2 linked regions of the Homo sapiens genome follow. The protein of the gene in region 2 purifies or fractionates together with the protein of the main gene of each other region. This does not show direct contact. Each region holds a gene or a part of one and is shown on either strand. Other genes may lie near its edges.

What was found.
Region 1: the proteins of SERPINE2 (region 2) and AGL fractionate together in Homo sapiens (co-fractionation; one large-scale study listed by BioGRID). This does not show direct contact.

What each region holds. Positions count from the first base shown.
Region 1 is NC_000001.11:99,856,639-99,860,465, reverse strand, and holds part of AGL (glycogen debranching enzyme), read right to left. Parts: intron 1-3,827. UniProt on the Homo sapiens protein: Multifunctional enzyme acting as 1,4-alpha-D-glucan:1,4-alpha-D-glucan 4-alpha-D-glycosyltransferase and amylo-1,6-glucosidase in glycogen degradation.
Region 2 is NC_000002.12:224,004,570-224,008,396, reverse strand, and holds part of SERPINE2 (glia-derived nexin isoform b precursor), read left to right. Parts: intron 1-3,827. UniProt on the Homo sapiens protein: Serine protease inhibitor with activity toward thrombin, trypsin, and urokinase. Promotes neurite extension by inhibiting thrombin. Binds heparin.

The sequences.
Region 1 (3,827 bases), on a different chromosome or scaffold from region 2:
AAAAATACTGACTATGGTCAAGTCTATTAGAAATATAATACATATAAATTTTAAACACGAATATAACTTTCAATTAATAATGGGCAATAATAACTGATGAGGCAGGAAAGTTTAGTTCCACTGAGTAAAATCTTTAATATCTAAGGAATTTCTTTGAGAGGAAAAAAACTAATATTTACCTATTTAATATATATTATTTATAATTTATAATCCTTGACTTATTAAACATCCAACAAAGTAATAAAAGAGGATATACTAACAGGGATATTTTCTGTGAACAAAAGATTTCAGTAAAAGACACTAAGAGAATGCTCTATAGTGAAACTAAGAATTTCTTCTCTAAGCAACTAAATGTACTTTTTCTATAATACAATTTGGCATTAATATATTAAGAATGTTTATATTTTTTGATCTAGGAATTTTATATAGATTTTTTGAGAAAAGTATCAGTGATGTAAACAGAGATTATGTATAAGGATATTTATCACAGCCTCATTTATTGAAATGAAATAAACTGACAACAACCTAAATATCTAATGATTGGCAGTGATTAAATAAATTATGGTAAATCTACAAGCTGGCATATTGTAAAGCCATTATAAATCATGTTATCAAAAGACATTTGGCCAGGCACAGTAGCTCACGCCTGTAATCTCAACACTCTGGGAGGCCGAGGCGAGAGGATCACCTGAGGTCAGAAGTTTGAGACCAGCCTGACCAACATGGTGAAACCCCATCTCTACTAAACGCAAAAATAGCTGGGTGTGGTGGTGTGCACCTGTAATCCCAACTACTCAGGAGGCTGGGGCAGAATTGCTTCAACCCAGGAGGCAGAGGTTGCAGTGAGCTAGGATCGCACCACTGCACTCCAGCATGGGTGACAGAGCAAGACTCCATTAAAAAAAAAATGTAATAACCACTTTTAATTTATTCTATTTTGTTACATTGTACACATTTATGTAGAGCTTTTAAAATATCTTCTGGAAAAAAGTATGGCTGAAACATGGCAGTAGGCAGGGAGGTAGAGTACATACACCATAATACTACTACAAACGGGAAAAAGGCAGGTTACAAAATTGTTTAGATAGTATAATCCTAATTAAAAAAAAAACACAGAAAAAATGCTTTTTATACATTTGCATAATTTTATAATTAGGGAAAACATTTTAAAATTAGAGCTACAATTATGAAGGGATAGACTAAGAAATAATTACAGAAAGAATTAAAACATGAAGTAAAATACTTAGTGACTGAGAAGCATAAACATTTACATCTCACAAGAATGACTAAATTTATCTTTAGGAGAAATAGTGTCATTTTGAACAAGTACAAACAGCAGAGATTAGCTGTCTGGGTATATGTGTACAACCTGTCCCCTGTTAAGTTTATACAAATACTGTTTTTATAATTACACAAGTATTCAGAGAACTTGCAGAGCAAAGGTTAAAACTCATCTAAAATCTCCAAAACAGTATTTGGATCAGTGCTCTACCTTCAGGAAAAAACCCCAATAATTCCCAAGCTAAGTCATTTATTTATATAATATATATGTATGATGTTCTCATAGATTATGTAAATTATAAAATATAAAAGTTAACTTAATGGGATAAGATATAAATGAAATAAATAATATTTAAATAATACATTTTATTTATTAGTGGGTAGAAAAAACCTTTTGGCTCTCACTAAAAATTAATATTGATAATATCTCTCAGTGAAAATGTAACTAAATAAATTTCATTATTTTAAAAAGTCTTGGTTTTAATATTTTGTAATAAAGTGATTCAAAGATTTCAAGTTCTACTTATTTTGGGTAAAATCATATAATGATGAAAGAAGCATTTCTAAAAATATATATTCAAAATGCTTTCACTATAGCAAGGGTTGGCAAAGTATATCCAGCCTAATCCCCATTTCTGTAAATGAAGTTTTACTGGAACACAGCCACATCCATTCATGTATGTTTGCCTATGGCTGCTTTCCTGCTACAATGGGAGTTGAGTCGCTCCAATAGGGAGTGCATTGCCTGAAAAGCTGCAAAGATTTGCGATCTGAACTTTTGCAGGAAAATATGTGCCAAACTCTGCTCCAAGCATCAATTTCCTTCAAAAAAGCACTTAACTTTCTCACTCATGTTTACATCAAAGACTTAAGTTTTTATTTTTTCTGAAAATATTTTCTAAGTATCATACTATCTAATGCTACTTGTTATTTCTGAAAAGGACGAATCTCAAACACTTTCTAACTCATCTTTTAAGTTCGATCACTCCTGTGAGGTAAAAGAACTATTCTTGGTTACTCTACCTCTCCTTACAAAGTAATATAGAGACTGTTATTTAAGATAATATAACCCGTAAAGCTACTTAACCTAGCTTAAGTAAAAGTGCAATGCATGGCAACATACTGCAAACAAATGAGGGTGTGATTGTCAACCCCTTCCAGACCTACAACCTCTACGTTTTCTTCTGAGTATGCCTTTTTTGTTTGTAACTTATCTGACATACAAACTGAGAGCATAATTCATATATTAACGTAATTCAATGTTGCTAACATATAACAGACTTAAAAAACTAAAACAGGTAGAGAGAAAAGAAAAGAGCCCTCTCCCTCTTCCCCCCTCCCCCTCCCCCTCCCCACGGTCTCCCTCTCCCCCCTCCCCCTCCCCACGGTCTCCCTCTGATGCCGAGCCAAGGCTGGACTGTACTGCCGCCATCTCGGCTCACTGCAACCTCCCTGCCTGATTCTCCTGCCTCAGCCTGCCGAGTGCCTGCGATTGCAGGCGCGCGCCGCCACGCCTGACTGGTTTTCGTATTTTTTTGGTGGAGACGGGGTTTCGCTGTGTTGGCCGGGCTGGTCTCCAGCTCCTAACCGCGAGTGATCCACCAGCCTCGGCCTCCTGAGGTGCCGGGATTGCAGACGGAGTCTCATTCACTCAGTGCTCAATGTTGCCCAGGCTGGAGTGCAGTGGCGTGATCTCGGCTCACTACAACCTCCACCTCCCAGCCGCCTGCCTTGGCCTCCCAAAGTGCCGAGACTGCAGCCTCTGCCCGGCCGCCACCCCGTCTGGGAAGTGAGAAGCGTCTCTGCCCGGCCACCCTTCGTCTGGGATGTGAGGAGCCCCTCTGCCCGGCTGCCCAGTCTGGGAAGTGAGGAGCACCTCTTCCCGGCCGCCATCCCATCTAGGAAGTGAGGAGCGTCTCTGCCCGGCCGCCCATCGTCTGAGATGTGGGGAGCGCCTTTGTCCCGCCGCCCCGTCTGGGATGTGAGGAGCGCCTCTGCCCGGCTGCGACCCCGTCCGGGAGGTGAGGGGCGCCTCTGCCCGGCCGCCCCTACTGGGAAGTGAAGAGCCCCTCTGCCCGGCCAGCCGCCCCGTCCGGGAGGGAGGTGGGGGGGTCAGCCCCCTGCCCGGCCAGCCGCCCCATCCGGGAGGTGAGGGGCGCCTCTGCCTGGCCGCCCCTACTGGGAAGTGAGGAGCCCCTCTGCCTAGCCACCACCCCGTCTGGGAGGTGTACCCAACAGCTCATTGAGAACGGGCCATGATGACGACGGCGGTTTTGTGGAATAGAAAAGGGGGAGAGGTGGGGAAAAGATAGAGAAATCAGATTGTTGCTGTGTCTGTGTAGAAAGAAGTAGACATGGGAGACTCTATTTTGTTCTGTACTAAGAAAAATTCTGCCTTGGGATGCTGTTGATCTATGACCTTACCCCCAACCCTGTGCTCTCTGAAACATGTGCTGTGTTCACTCAGGGTTAAATGGATTAAGGGTGGTGCAAGATGTGCTTTGTTAAACAGATGCTTGGAGGCAGCATGCTCCCTAAGAGTCATC
Region 2 (3,827 bases):
TTTGTCCTGCCCTTGTAACACAAAATAAACCTCAGGGCAACCAAGTAGTTGATTATGGAAAACTTCTTTTTATATAAATATTCTAATTAATAAGTGAGGGAGGAAAGTTAGAATTATAACAGCACCCACATTTGGTAACTCTTAATAAAACAGTGCACTTAGGCGGTCATCATAAGTAGCTTGCTAACACCACAAAAAGAGACAGTCAGCTACCGTCTACTGATTTCACCACCCTCTACGGCACCTCTACAAAATATTCTTACAAAAAGAGAAAATTGACTTGAATCTGATCAGTCCCTACAGCTGGGGTCAGCAGGCTTTTCACGTAGAGGGCCACATAATAACTGTTTTTGGCTTTGCAGGCTATACCGTCTCTCTTGCAGCCGGGCACCTCTGCTCAGCTCCCTATCATAGCACAGATGCAGCCATAAACAAAGAAAAAAGCGTGGCCAGATCTGGCCCATGGGCCGTAGCTTGCAGACCCCTGCTCTAGCTCTAACAGTTTACAGGAAGGACAGAAGACAGAGAAACTTGTTGAACAGCATGACATTAATGCAGTTAGCAAAATCTACCCTGGGGAAACTCTACAGGGCAAATAACCTGTTTTTTTCAACAGAAAAAATTCCAAGGTTAAAAATGAAGCAACTAGTGGAAGATGAAACAAACAAACAACCAAAAAAACAAAGGCAAGAGGTGTAACCAGTTGCAATGTATGGAGCTTACTTAGATCGTAATTCAAATATACTATAAAAAATGCGAACATGGACTAGATATTTGACATGTTAAGGAGTTATTTTGCGGTGTGATAATGATGTCATGGATATCTATTTTAAATCCTTAGGCTGAGTCTATATGTTGAAATTATTTTGAATGATATTATATGATGTCTGCAGTTAACTCCAAAATCATCTTTGATTTGAGTAGAAATAAACCAAGCCGTGAGTTAATAATTGTTTTTTCTGGATGTTGAGTATGGGGGGGAGTATTAAATATTTGCATATGTTTGATATTTCCCATGATATAATGTTTTTAAAAATATATGTATGTTTTATAAAACATGATCACTTTAAACCTTTTATAGAGAATGAGAGAGCATGGAGAACTTTTCCTTCATTAGACGCTTCTGTGTCCTCCCAAAATAGGTGTGCACCATCCAGCTATGAATGGACCCAGAAGAGTCTTTCCAGTGGTTTTTCCCACCAAGCTGTCTGCCTACAACTTACTTATTATGCTACATAGAGCAGACTAGTGTCATATTATTTATCATTTGTTCATGCACTATATGTAAACTTTTATTTCATAAAAAGAATTTATTAGGTAGAAAATGAGCTTCATGTTTTGTGTCTGGCTATCCTAGTTGCCACTGTTCAGTTGTTCAGCACTGGTTCCAGGCTAAGGGGTCTCGTCACAGGTGCTCACACAGCCTGGAGAGGTGATGGCAGTGGCGGCCATGGCAGGGTGTGAGGCAGCAGGGAGCAGCGGGAGCGAGGCACGCTGGAAAGTGGGTGCCCAGCCCATAAGGGGTGGCGTCTGTGCAGAACATTTGCCATGGGGGTGAGGGTCCAGTAGTACTAGAACGTCCACTCTTTTTCATTTTTCCTGAGAATAACCCTAATCTAGACTTGTGACATTTTTTGACTTTTAGTTGCTAAAAATATTTTTAGAATACTCTGTATTGCACATCAAACACTTGCTGGATTAGTCCCACGGGTCAACCTCTGATTTTGTGTCTACCAATGAATGGTAAGGCCCTAAACTGACCCTGTGGGCACCAGGAGTCTACAGTCCCTGCTTTCCGTGAGCTTCCAGTCTACTTGCGAGGAAAGAAAACATACTTGGAAAACAACTAAAATGAGACAGGCAAATAGGAAATGCTATAGGAATTCAAAGAAGAGAATAAAGAACCTCATCTTTAACAATCAGGAAAAACATCACACACACCGTGGAAGGAGTTGGGTAGAAGTGTCACTGTTGCTAGGTGGAGGCTAAGGGAGAGAAGCAGAGGCTCGGGCTTGGGTAAGCAAGCTCTTTCAACAGAAACTATGATTCTTGAAAAAGAGAAGAGTTGGTAGATTTTTGGAGACTAGTACCCCTCCCCACCAGTGGATAATTTTTCTGAACGATCAAGTGAAAACAGGTAGCAAACTGTTGAAAGTATAGCACTGCAATTCAGCAGAGAGTTTGAGGATTTGAGCTGCATATTTGAGCATCACCTGTGTAGAAGAGATGGTTGACGCCATTGGGTCTATAGAGAGTGGGTTCCTCTAATGTCTGCTATTGGCAAGCAGTCTATTTATAAATGTTAGGGTTATATTTTGAGTCTGGCATTTGCAAAACTACCATCCCATTATTTACTACGTTAAATCATGGTTAAAACTCAAAGCAGTACCCAGCTATTTCATAAACATTCCCCGTATTGGAAAGGAGAAAGGTTTGAAGTAAGAGAAACTAGAAGAACATAGGGAAGGAGATACCTGGCATTTGGAAGGATATGCCTGTGGCGATGGCTCTACTGATGGGCTTATGATCTTCCCTCCAATGATGGCCTAGAGACCTATTTTTACTGTTGTGAAACAATATTCAAGCAAATGATAATCTTCCATCTTGTTGCTATGCAGTACATTTGGGCAGCACTCTTATTTCTCTCTGATTTGAAAGTTTAAAGTGTAATTTCTCTTAAAAAGGAAAATAAACAGGAGGTTTCTATGTACTTCCCATTATGGCATCTGCTTGTTCCAGAGATCAAGCATTTCAAAGCTTGAGAACTCCAAGTTACTTCATGTAAACGATTGTCTATTTGGACATGAGTGTGTTTCATTGTTAGGAATTATGCAGGCCTAAAGTAATTTATAGATCAACACCCACTCTCCTGGCTACTGAACTTTGGAGAAAAATGAAAGCTTATTCTTAGACACGTATATAAGCCAGGTGAGTTTAGACGAGTGAGCATTTGGCCTAGGAAACCAAGGCCAAGGAGAAGTTCTGCCCAGCACATCAATCAAAAATAGCTCTGATTCCAAGTTCTGCACAGCTCTAACACTGTCCCAGTGCACTTTTATGAAACTGTACATAGACAGCTCTCAAAAACTTCCCAAGTCCAAGAAACCCAGAAAAACACCCATAACAGCTTTCTTCCGTGTCATAGGAAAACTGTTCTTTTAGCGAAAATTTATAATGAAGCAGAATTCTGCTAAATAAGATGGCTGTTTATTTGGGAGACTGTCCTTGTGACTTTAAGACATTGGAGCTGTTAGATTTCTCACTGTCACTGATCCTTTCACCCTGTTTTTACAATGTTTTATATATATATATATATATATATATATATATAATATATATAAAATATATAAAATATATTTATATATTATATAATATAATATATAATACTACATATATATAATATATATGTAGTATTTGAGTCTATCAACTTTAAGCTACCAGAGGCAAAACCAGTTTAATGTTCATGTCTTCTGAATCCAAATTCTAATATTTATTCAAATATTCACTAATCTAGGAGCATTTCTTTGGGGAGGCTTCAGGAGTACAGATTATAGTGGGCCGAATGTAGACACCAGAATAGACTATAATGCAAGAGACAACAATTGAGATGGATGAAGTTGGTCACTGCATTTGGCCATTTGTAAGAAAGATTGTACACAATGTTTTATACTTATGATGACTTTGTGCTATATTAAATTTTAAAGAGGATATTTATTGCTCAAAAGAAAGAAAAGGCAAGAGGGAGGAAGGAAGGGGAGAACACAGTTTCTAGTTTTTAGATGGAATGAATAAAGCTTCCACGGTCATGATTTGGACGCTCTCCAAAG